Linked DNA regions of Homo sapiens. The protein of the gene in region 1 interacts with the protein of each later gene in a pairwise test. Each region holds a gene or a part of one and is shown in the gene's direction. Other genes may lie near its edges.

What was found.
Region 2: the proteins of MSI2 (region 1) and MBNL2 interact in a two-hybrid assay, tested with the Homo sapiens proteins (one large-scale study listed by BioGRID).
Region 3: the proteins of MSI2 (region 1) and QKI interact in a two-hybrid assay, tested with the Homo sapiens proteins (one large-scale study listed by BioGRID).

The regions. Positions count from the first base shown.
Region 1 is NC_000017.11:57,612,927-57,616,578, forward strand, and holds part of MSI2 (RNA-binding protein Musashi homolog 2), read left to right. Parts: intron 1-3,043; coding exon 3,044-3,158; intron 3,159-3,652.
Region 2 is NC_000013.11:97,220,943-97,225,266, forward strand, and holds the start of MBNL2 (muscleblind-like protein 2), read left to right. Parts: upstream 1-1,390; 5' UTR 1,391-1,589; intron 1,590-4,324. UniProt on the Homo sapiens protein: Mediates pre-mRNA alternative splicing regulation. Acts either as activator or repressor of splicing on specific pre-mRNA targets. Inhibits cardiac troponin-T (TNNT2) pre-mRNA exon inclusion but induces insulin receptor (IR) pre-mRNA exon inclusion in muscle.
Region 3 is NC_000006.12:163,571,572-163,575,223, forward strand, and holds part of QKI (KH domain-containing RNA-binding protein QKI), read left to right. Parts: 3' UTR 1-3,652. UniProt on the Homo sapiens protein: RNA reader protein, which recognizes and binds specific RNAs, thereby regulating RNA metabolic processes, such as pre-mRNA splicing, circular RNA (circRNA) formation, mRNA export, mRNA stability and/or translation.

The DNA.
Region 1 (3,652 bases):
ATCTTCCTAGGCTTGGGGCAGGTTCATGCAAATGAGATTTCTCAGCCTGCTCCTCTGGAGTCCTGAAGCCAGTTTTCACCCCTGGGCTTAGGAGAGAAACCTAAAAGAGCCAATTTGGATGAGTTTGTTGTTTTCAATCACCTTTCCCCCCTACCTGCAATGACAATATTCTAATAGCCCTATCAGTGACAGTCTATTGCATTATCTTACAAAAACCTGCTCCCTGTTGCTTAGCAGAAAGCTTAGAAAATAACTAGCAAAATGCCCAATTAAAATTTAAAAACAGAGTGATTCTAAGACAACTTTAGTATGTCTTTTCAGTATTTTTCCCTATATGATATATGCACTTGTTTATTTTTCAAAAAGTCAGTGACATTTGCTGTTTTCCCGCTTGCAGTTAAAGAAACCCATCATCCTGGTTTGCCTGGGACTGAGGGGTTTCCCAGTACCAGTGCATGATTATTATCAACACACTTTTTCATAGCTGCATAGCATTCAATCAGTGTGGATAATCCAAACTCAGCTAATTCCCTGTTCTTCTATATTTTAGGTATTTCCTTTTATTAAAAAAAAAAATTCTAATTCCGGTAGGGCAAATTCCTAGAGGTAAGATTACTAGGTGTATGTATAAATTTATGGCTTTTGATGTAGTGTCTGGTTGCCCTCCAGAAAAATACGTGCCAATTTCCACCCCTCCACACTATACCGTCAGAAACCCTTACATCAAACAATGCTTTCATCACTGTCAATCTGTGGGCAAAAAATATGCTTCATCTTGGGGAATGTGTTCTTTATTAGCCGTCTGTGAATTGTCTACTCCTGTCTTTTACCCATGTCTGTTTTGGGATGCTCATCTCTTTTAATCTATAGAACTCTGTATTAAGCATATTAGTCATGAATGTTGAACCATTTTGTCCACTTTTTAAGGCATTTGTGGTTATTCTTGAAAGAGCAAGAGTAATACCTGTTGTCCGGTGTCTTTGAAGAAAGGTGACTTATATCTTAGGTAATTATAGCATCCCCCTAACCTTGAGCACTAAAATATTTTTTGATTGAAGTATTTGGGATGTGAGTATCTCCAAAATGGATAACCCATAGAGGTTCCTTTTTTATTTTCGTTTTATTTATTTTTTTTATTTTTTGAGATAGAGTCTCGCTCTGTCGCCCAGGCTGGAGTACAGTGGTGCGATCTCGGCTCACTACACCCTCCACCTCCCGGGTTCAAGCGATTCTTCTGCCTTAGCCTCCCAAGTAGCTGGGATTACAGGAGCATGCCACCACACCTGGCTAATTTTTTTGTATTTTTAGTAGAGACAGGGTTTTGCCACGATAGCCAGGCTGGTCTCGAACTCCTGGACTCAAGCAGTCTGCCTGCCTTAGCCTCCCAAAGTGTTGGGATTACAGGTGTGAGCCACCACGTCCGGCCTAGAGGTCTCTGTTTAAACAATGTATATTGCACACAGTTTAACTTTTTCTTGCTATCTCAGGCACACCTGTGAACAATAGCAATTTTCTGTGTTACAGTGATACCTCAGCAGCTGTTGAACTATGTAGAGCTTTTGTTCCTATACCATATGGCCCAGACTGCTCTTTAAATAAGATACCTGTTTCTTGTCTTTTCTCCGTCATTTAAATAAGATACCTGTTTCTTGTCTTTTCTCCGTCACTATCAGGCGGCCATGCTGTTTCTTTTGGCTGTTAAAAGCATCCGTGCCTTACCCTGCAACATCCCATCTTCATCAGCAGTGGGATTGATGACTGGCTAACAATGCTTGTTAAATTTCTCTGTAAACAAAAAGCAAATAAGTGCTAATAAGCACAGGCCTAAGGCGCTCTGGTAAAACAGTGAAGGAGCTTCCGAGGGCCACAGTTTTACTTATTCCCTGAGGTTTATAGTTCGCATAGTTAAGGTTATTAAATAAGTGACCTCTGGGTATACAAGCAGATTAGCATGAAGAAATTTGAGAGTCAGAAGGGAAACAGAAAGGGGAGATTAGCAACCACTTGAAAATGTAGCTGCAAATGAGAAACTAGTAATCCAGATGAACAGAATCAGTGTTTAATCTTATTACTTCCCTCAGGAGTGTGGTGGTGGTGTAGGTTTTGTGGAAATGTGGCATTGCTGACCTAGAAATTCTAAAGATCTGGTTTGTAGGCCTGAACCTGTTGGGGAGGGCTTTCAGCATGTTGCACAAGAATTTTTTTTTTTTTTTTTTTTTAAGACAGGGTCTCGCTGTGTCACCCAGGCTGGAGTGCAGTGGCGTGATCATGGCTCACTGCAGCCTTGACCTCCCAGACTCAGGTGATCCCCCTACCTCAGCCTCCCAGGTAGCTGGGACTACAGGTGTGTGCCACCACACCTGCCTAGTTTTTTGTATTTTTTTAGTACAGACGGGGTTTCACCATGTTGCCAGGCTGATCTGAAACGCCTGGGCTCAAGCTGATTCACCTGCCTCCACCTCCCACAGTGCTGGGATTACAAACATGATCCCCCACGCCCAGCCAACACAAAACTTCTGATGCTCTGTTTTCTCATCTGTGAACTGGAGCTAAGGCTAAGTGGTCTGTCTGTTTAATAAGAGTTTGAATCAGATGGCCTGGCATGAAGAGTCACTGGCCTGAGAGAATGTCAGGGGCATTTGTAAATGTGTAAAGGGCTGAAAAATCCTGAGGGATTATTATTATTGCTATTGTTGTTATTATTCACAGACACATCCAACAGCCATTGTCTGCCTCCTTATCTGTCATGCTTTCTGCACGAGCGTCAGCCTGAGCTTCAATCTGTGTGTATATCTGCAGCTTACGTCCTTGCCACCCCTCCAGAACCCAGTTTCATCCTTGTAGGTTTTTCCGAAGCAGGATTTGCACAAGTGGCGTGTTTTCTTAAGTATTTATTTTGCAGGCCATTTACTCGGCATGGCTATTTTTACAGTGGGTAAGGAGCAAGGCTAAAAATAACTTAGCTCATAACCAGACAGGTTCTGCATTTGACATTTACGTGGAATTCATTTGCATCTCATTTGTTCGCCTTTCTGTTTAACAGGTAGAATGTAAGAAAGCTCAGCCGAAAGAAGTCATGTTCCCACCTGGGACAAGAGGCCGGGCCCGGGGACTGCCTTACACCATGGACGCGTTCATGCTTGGCATGGGGATGCTGGGTGAGTCTGGACAGGACCGCAGGTCACCATGGACTGGGAGGGCTATGGAGGCCTCTACTCCCAACTGGGTCACCTACCAGTGGGGCAAACTGCTTCACCTTTCTAAGCCTCAGTTTCCTTGTCTGTAGATGAGGATGATAATTCCCCGTTCCAAGACAGTTGTGATGATTAAGTGTGGGTGTGTGTGTGTGCATGCATGTGTGTGTGTGTGTGTGTGTGTTTGTATTTATAATATTGCCCCATGCCTGGCTTATAGGATATGTTAGACTATTTTCTCTCTTTTCCATCTCCTTCCTCAAAAGAAGGAAAAGTCCCCCTCTATCTGCCTCAGCCCTCTCATCTGAGTGGGAGTTCTTAAGATGTAAGGACTCCTGGCTGACTTGACTTGTGTGGGCTAAGGCTACGTTTTCTAAAACTTGGGAGAGGAGGGAAGTGGTAAGGGTGGGCGATAATCCTGTCTATTTAAATGATTAACATTTTTCTCTTGGGATATC
Region 2 (4,324 bases), on another chromosome or scaffold:
AGTATTACAGTAGATGAAAGCCTGCAAGTTAGGATATGTGATAGAATTACATGGGGAAGACAAAGAATGTAAGTATAAAAACTGAGGGGAATAAAGCATGGTAGTTATTGAAGAAAGTAGCCTAGAAATTATATGAAATATTATGTTTTTAAGATGCAATGGCAAAATAAAAAGAAAGCATTCCATTGCATTCTGTTGCTTCATTACAGATGCGCTGAACAGTTGCTTATAAAAATCGTGCATTGGGTTCAACCTTTCAGATGAATAAAGGCTTTGTTCTGTCTTGGTCTCATCATGTAATCATCATACTTTTTTTTTCTCAAAATGTGGTATTTAGGGGAGGAAAATGTATGCTTGTTGTGTTTGCTCAATGCCATATGTTTTTGAGTTTTTGTTTTCAAGGCATACAGAAATGCTGTAGACTGGGAAATAAATAAATAAATAAATAAATAAATAACCCTTCCTAAACTTTCTCTTCTTCTGCTTTATCTCAGGAAACTCCAGCACCTCCTAGAACATCTTTTGTGGAATGGCACCTCATGGGGGCCCTTGGATCATGTACCCCTTGTATTCAACAGTAAACATCTTCCTATAATCATTGCTTCATTAACGATAATGTGAGCCAATGCACAGTATTTATCAAATGGCATCTAAGATGGTTAAAGCACACCTAATCCTCTCGTGGGTGCCTGCCAAGAGTAGAAAAGGGTAGTGTATAGATATCAATTTTATTGTCCAGCATTCCCTAATCGAAGTCCCAAGTGGTCTGAAAACTTAGACGAAAGATAAATGGGCCGCAGTAATTAACCACTGCAATAACAGATGTTATACAGGAAACCTGTGTGTGCCAGAGCTATAAGCATGTTTTGATTTTGAATACGCACTTGGGCTAGCACATTCTTCCTCAATAATGGAAATATGTAAATGTTTTGTAAGGTATTAACTGCCATGGCAGACGTTGAATTATTTTTCCTTTAAAAAACATATACATATGCTTTGTCAGATAGTCCAAGGACTTCAGTTTCATGTACAACCTGGATTTCTTTGGAATCTGCGGAGTTTCACATTTTCCCAAGTGTTCACGGTGAAGCTCCTGGCTTCGAGCTGGCTGTCTTCAAGGGTGTTTTCTTGAGCTACCCCTCTCTCTGCTCTGCCAATTATGTGCCACTTTGTCTTGGTGCTATGATTGCTTTCTTCTGAGAGGGAAATTCCTCTTTCATCAGTATGGATGCACTGTTTTTACACACTGCAAGTGCTGTGTTACTGTGTCAGTCATCCTATTAGGGCCAGTTTCAGACGAGTAGGGCTGACGAGCTGGCTGGGGATTGGCTGGCCCCGGCTGGGAGGGATTTGTCGGAAGGAAGGGCTGCAGCTTACAGCAACAGAGTTTAGACTGTCTTTGCTTCATCATCTGAAGGTAAAATTTTCCAGATACGGCAGACGGCTTTCAGAGTACAATAAACAGGGAATGAGAACTATTTACATGGAAGTTTCTTTCTCATGATGCGGTGGAGAAGCCTCGGCCACTTGGTTCTGCCAGATGTTCCTGGGGTTACTGTAAATGGGAAGGACAGGCAGAGCTAAACAAGGTAGGAGAATCGCCCCCCTTTTTTGAATGTTTAAAGAGTTTGCTGCAGTATGCTGCATTCCATGTGTGCTGCTTACGGGAGCCAGGGAAACTGGATTCCACTAATTCAATTGTAATACTTGCGGGGGACCCTGGAGTTTTACGTAACATTTTGATTTGAGAAAAAGAAATGGCAAAGCTTGAATCTATGCCGCCTGTTTGGGGTGAGGCAAGAAATCGAGTTTTTATGCAAAGAATCGATTCATTTATTATATTATTTTTTAAAAACCATTTGAATTCTTTGGAGCAATCTTATTTTCTTGCTGTGAAAAATTGTTATATTGCCATAGCTAGTTCCCAAATAGATAAAGTTTACATGGATCCTATTATTTGAAAACAGACTTGCAATTAAGGATTAAAAAAAAATTCATGGTAAATAATCATCGGTTGAATGTTTGGCCAAACGTATGTGTCTATTTATTAAAAATTAGGGACCTACCTAGCTCTACAATGCTACAGCTTTAATTGAGTTTCAAAAGCACATTTTAAACAACCTAGCAAGAGGTAGCTTTCTGGCAAGTTTTCGATACTGTAGTTCAATGTTTACATTTCTTTTCCTGGCATGTCTGAGCCTTTGTTTCCAGCTTAAAAGTGGAACCATTATATTCAAAAGTAAAGCTGGGTTAATAATGCTTACTGCAATTATCTGATCTTTATGCATTTTTAATGAGAACACACAGCCAGCAGAATAATTTAATGAGGGCAGGCTAGCTTTTAAAGCTGTGTTTTCACTATGCCGAACCATATCAACTTTCTCGCTGAGAAGCAGCAGTGAGAAATGATGGAGAAGATTTATTTTTAACACACTTGGCCCAGGAGAAGGAAAGGATATATTTGCTAAAGAATTCTTTCTGCCCTTTTCCGTTTTAAATTTCTGCCAGGCATGAGGAAACTGTGCTTTTTTGTTAGGCCTCGGAAGCATGTGTTTACAATAAATGTGTAACATTTTTAGAATAGTTAGCAAGCACTGAAGCGAAGAAAAAAATCTGACTTGCCTAACCACCACCACCTTGAATGTTCTACAAGAAACATTACTGTCCCTTTAAAAGACAAAGGTTAAGTGGAAAGCTATTTGTTAATTGGGTAATGTGTGTGTTTTGGGGACAATAAGGTTTTTAAAAAAGGCAGGGGGAACATTCTTATAATCTTTAAATAAGAGGAAGTTTCTTCAGCTATCCTACTTGTTTTGCAAGGAGCAGTAGAACTACTCATTTAAATAAGGGCAATGCCACGTAGATTCTTCTAGACCCACTGTTTTTACTTTCAAGGAGAAGTGCAGGACACTAGCCCAGAACTTCTGACGTCATCCCCCAACTATTTCTGCTGTGTGTTCCTTTATTCGAGCTTGTGGAGAGGAATATTTCTTTATGTCCTGGCCAGGAACATTCTAACTCCCCACTGGCAGGACTTAAGTTATGTCTTTATATTTTCGCCTGTCTTTTGTAAATTGTAAACCTGTCCCCTCATAAATAGGGCATCTTCTTGTACCTGCCACATGTCGGGCCGGTCAGCACAGGTTTTCTGCAGGGCTTCTGGCTGGGCTGGCAAAAAGCAGCAGGGAGCAGGGCAAAGCTTTTTTTCTGGCCTGACTCCCCCTTGGTGCAGCCCAGCGCTGCCACCTGGGTGGATGGTCCCCGGGGCCCTATTCCCAGTTGCTCCAGAGCCACTATTTAGGATCCAGGTTGTGCCACCAAGTTCAAGGCTGGTTGTGATGGTGAGAACAGCTGCTTTCATAGAAAAATCATCATGTCCTAGCACAGATGGCCCCAAGCAGGGGAAGTACAATACTGCAGGCTGCAAATCCATGTCACAGGTGGCAACCTTGGTCACAGAGATCGGGGGAAGGGTAATGTTTACAAAGGAACCTTTTAAAAAAGATTTTGACTGGAGCACATTGGAGTTCTCGGGAGTTCCCAAAGCTAATTTGTGTCTCCTCTCTGACTACTCACGTAGTTTTGAGCAAGTGCCTACCTTGATTTTTCTGTCTTTTAATAGAATTGAATCATACTTGCTACACTTTCCCTCATCATTTAGCATTTTGAGACCTTGACCTTTTACCAAAAAAAAAAAAAAAAAAAAAAAAGTTGTTTGTCTCTTGGCACATTGAGCTATTTAAAGTACAAAGGGATAAAACCTCGGTATTAAGAAACTGTTGGCAAACACCTTAGAGTATTAAGATACATAGTCATATACACAAAACCCTTCACTCTACTTTGTGCTCATGTAAATTTTTTAGGGATACTTTTTCTTAGTTCAACAAATGAAATTTCCAAGGAAATCAAAGCGTTGTTGTTTGCATTTTTTCCATCGATCTAATCTAATATACTAGAAGCTCTGCAAAGCACACTATTCTGGCCACAGGCCTTGTAGTGCCCAAAACATTTAATGCTGTTTTTCCTTTGACTTTTGTGTTAAATTTGTGAAAGTGGAGTAAATAAGAGAAAAAACAAGAGGGAAGGAGAAAAATATGCTTGTGAAATATACTGGTTAGGTAGCTTTACTGGTTAACAGCCTGCCTTCTCTCTGCTAGTTGTTTCAATTTGCTGTTGCTATGGTGAAAACAAATCAATATCACATGGCTACCAGCCAGTCCCGCGCTCAGGGAGTGCCATAGAAATTCAAGATCAGGTACTCAAGATTCCAAGCAAGAATTGGGAAAAGAGGATTTAGATGCTGAGCTTAAGAGAATTCCTTATA
Region 3 (3,652 bases), on another chromosome or scaffold:
CTGTATACATGTAATGAAATTGTAGATAAAGTGTAGTGCATTGAAACAAATGAACAAAAAGTAGATACTTTTACTATACAAGGGTGCTGGTGCAGAAAAAAATATATATATTTTTGGAAATGTAGCATTTTATACTTTCAAGTGTTATAAAAAAAAAGAAAAAGAACAAAGAAACCCTTTATTTCATTAAATGATTTTTTCTGGTGGTTGTCAAGAAACAAAAGACCAAAAGAGCCTTTTTGTCTTTCTTTTTTATTTTTTAAGTATTGGAATAAGTCTAAAGAAAAGAAAGTGCCTTATTTTCCTTCATGGTCATTCAGTCAAGTGTCTCATAAAGATCAGCTCCTCCCTCAGAATACAAGTTAATGCATGTTACTCAGTCGCCCAGTATGTGAAAGAAGATATGAGGGAGACAAATGAGTTGATAGTTTGAATTATAGGATTTTTGCCACGTTACCTTGATGCAAATTTGCCAAATCTGATACTGTGAAAAGATTTGATAACTTTTCTAATGCCTGACTAGTAAGTTTTAAAACATCATTCTTTAAAAGAATAGTTTAATACTTTTGGTTATTCCAATCTTCAATGTTAACCCAAAGGATTCTGAGATAAAAATTATGTGTCATCTAAACTTCAGTTTACAGACAAAATTAGAGCTTTGTTTTATTTGGAGAAGGGGGATGCATTCATTTGATTTTGTTTTTTGTTTTTAATTAATTGAATATAATAGGATACCTAGCAAATGTTTTCACAAAAGTGAATCTTTGTGATTTTCATTCTAGAAAACAATGTTTTAAATCACCCAAATTTAATCACATGTCTTTATATCATACCAGATAACTGGTGTAGTGTATCCTTTTACTGTTTCAATAACCTCTGCCTCCCCCACCCCTTAACTTTAAAAGAATGTGAAAAACTAGCATCATAGTGCATATAAATACTCAACCACATTTCAGCTTAAGCTTCTAATTTCTCAAGAAGTTGAAACAGTTAGTTATGTAGTTGAAGCAATTTGTGTGCAAAGCCTACATCTAAACACTTGAGTGAATAATCATTAACTGCTCAGTACCAGACGTGGCAAATCTCAAGTGACAGTGGACCCCCCCCCCCGCCCAGCTTATCAACTCGTCCCCTCTTCCACACCTTCCCAGCATCACAGTCAGAGGTCAGCAGGAAGCTGAGTCATTACCTTCTTGGTGACCTCCCCCACCATCTTGTCTCACTTGGAAACCGTTGTCAGTTTATTTACTATGCAATAGACATTCATTGTTTTGTATCCAGCTAGCTTTGGTTTAATATGCCACTGCTTTGTCTTTCTGTTACACATACAGTTTTGATTTATTTACAATATATGCTGTGCCATTTTGATTTTTATATTGTTTGGTTGGTTGAATAAATTTGCGACACTCAAACACTTGAGGTGATAGTTGTTAAAAACAATACCAGTATTTGATCCAGTTTCATCTCAACTATGTTATACCTGGACATTTTAGATGTTTATCAAAGGTCTTTTATGGGGAAGAAAGTAAATGTATGAAATAATAAATGTGTGACATTTATAGGGAATGTTGGCTCTGAACAAACTTTTGAAAACTTGGTTGACAAAATTTTGGATCAACTGAAAAAAGCATGACTTTTGAAATCTCTGAATGCCTTGGTTCTCAGTATTATCATTCTTTATTGAATTTATTTCTTATTAAAATATGTAGTTTTTAAGACTTTTTTTCTGACAGTATTATGTAATTTTTTAGCGTGGGTAGATGGGAGTGTCGCTTGTATGTTATCGTACAGCTGACATGTATTTTTGTCTATTCTTTATTATCTTAGTTTCATGCTATGTATGTACCATAACCAACCTATTGCCTATGAGAAACATGTAAGATAATGTATTTACAGCCATTGTTACAAGTTTATAATGTATTTTTCTATCTTGTTTTATATGTATGTTATATAACATTCAAAAAGAATTTTTTTCTTGATTGAGAAAAGGATACAAAATGCAAAATCCACAATTTTGATAACTGAAAATTGCCAATTGTTTTGCAGTACTTTATTATATTGGGTGTCTTGTCTTTTTTGGGCTTTTAGTTAGCTAATGAATGAATACATTAGACACTTTTGGGTTTTAGTTGGGATTTTACATAGCTTGCATTTTAATTCTTTGGTTCTTTGCTGTTTCTATTAACCCACAGCATTATTTTAATAAATGTTATAATACCAACCTACTAACTCTGGACTTTGTCTGTTTATTAACCTTTATATGTTTAATTAAAATAAACAAATAAAGACAAAAGAATGTAAAGTCTTGAGTTACTGGACTAACCCTGAAGAACGTGACCACAGATAACATAGTGTGACTTGTTTTTATGTTGTTTGTCAGCTGACAGTTTTGCACACTACTGTTAAAATGGCTTTGGTTATTCTGGTCTTTTAGCTTGGGGGCCGGGGCGGGTGTGGGTGTAGGTGCAGTAGAGATGGGAACAAAGTAGCCTTTGTTTGAGGCATTCTTCTCTTGCCACTTGCCTTTCAGCATCTGCATTACTAATTCCACACCTTATTTTTCCTTCTCCAAAATAATCACTGTCTGCTCACAGCATCGAGTAAAAAGATACATTGTCATGGTATATACCTGGAGAAACCAGTTTGATTCTTTGTTGAACCATTTCTTTTAATTTCTGTAAATAAGTAATTTTATGGTCACATTGTAAAGCAGAGAAACTGTTGATATTTTACCTTTATTTAGATTTTTGTTTTAACTTGACCTTTTTCCTTTGGAAAGCGTTGAACTTGTTTAGCTAACTACTCCTATTAGGGGAGCTTAACTTGGGTAAAGTCAAAGGCCCACTGGCTGTTTCTCATGGTGGCCTGAAGCCCCGCTGCTTTCCAGTGAGGAAAAGAACCCTCAGCACGTTACTGAGCTTTCCTCAGGTATTTTTTTCTCTGTCACCTACTTTACAAATACAGTCAGACTAAAACATTAAACAAGAAGTTTAAGGGGGAATAACATTGGGATTTGAAAAGTTGTATGTGATTAATTTCTTGCATGCAAATCAATTTAAGATTTCTTAAATATCTTCATGCTTTTCTTGGCTGGAACTTGGGTAAATTAACCTGTAATTATGAATTATTTAGTTTAACTCAAGGTGCATTTTTATTTCACAGATTGATACTTGCTTTTTTCTGTGAAACAGTTCTCCTAGATACCAAAATCCTCAGGATGAATTTTTGCATTTGTAAATAACAATTTATCTTTGTAAATTACATTTTATTTATTTAGAGTTCTAAAATTGAGGGCTGAAATGAATGACATGTAATAGAAGACAAAACTGTACCAATACGCTGTTAACCAATCAGACTGTCCAGGTATTCTCATTTCATAAATATGTATACACACATATAAATACACAGAGTAGTGTTAGCTGATGTGAGTGATAACAGCGAATCACCATTGAGATGGTCATTTGGATCATGTAAACAAACCGTGTCATGTCTCTGATGGGAGCGGTGGGTAGTGTACTGTTAGGTGGACAGGTCTTTTAACATGCTACTATTTGTAAAAGTTTCCGTTGCCATAACAGTTCATGTAGTAGTCTGTGAAAATTCGAAGCTGTCTGTCAAGCTGCTAATATACAAGTTGTCATGGTACCATGTA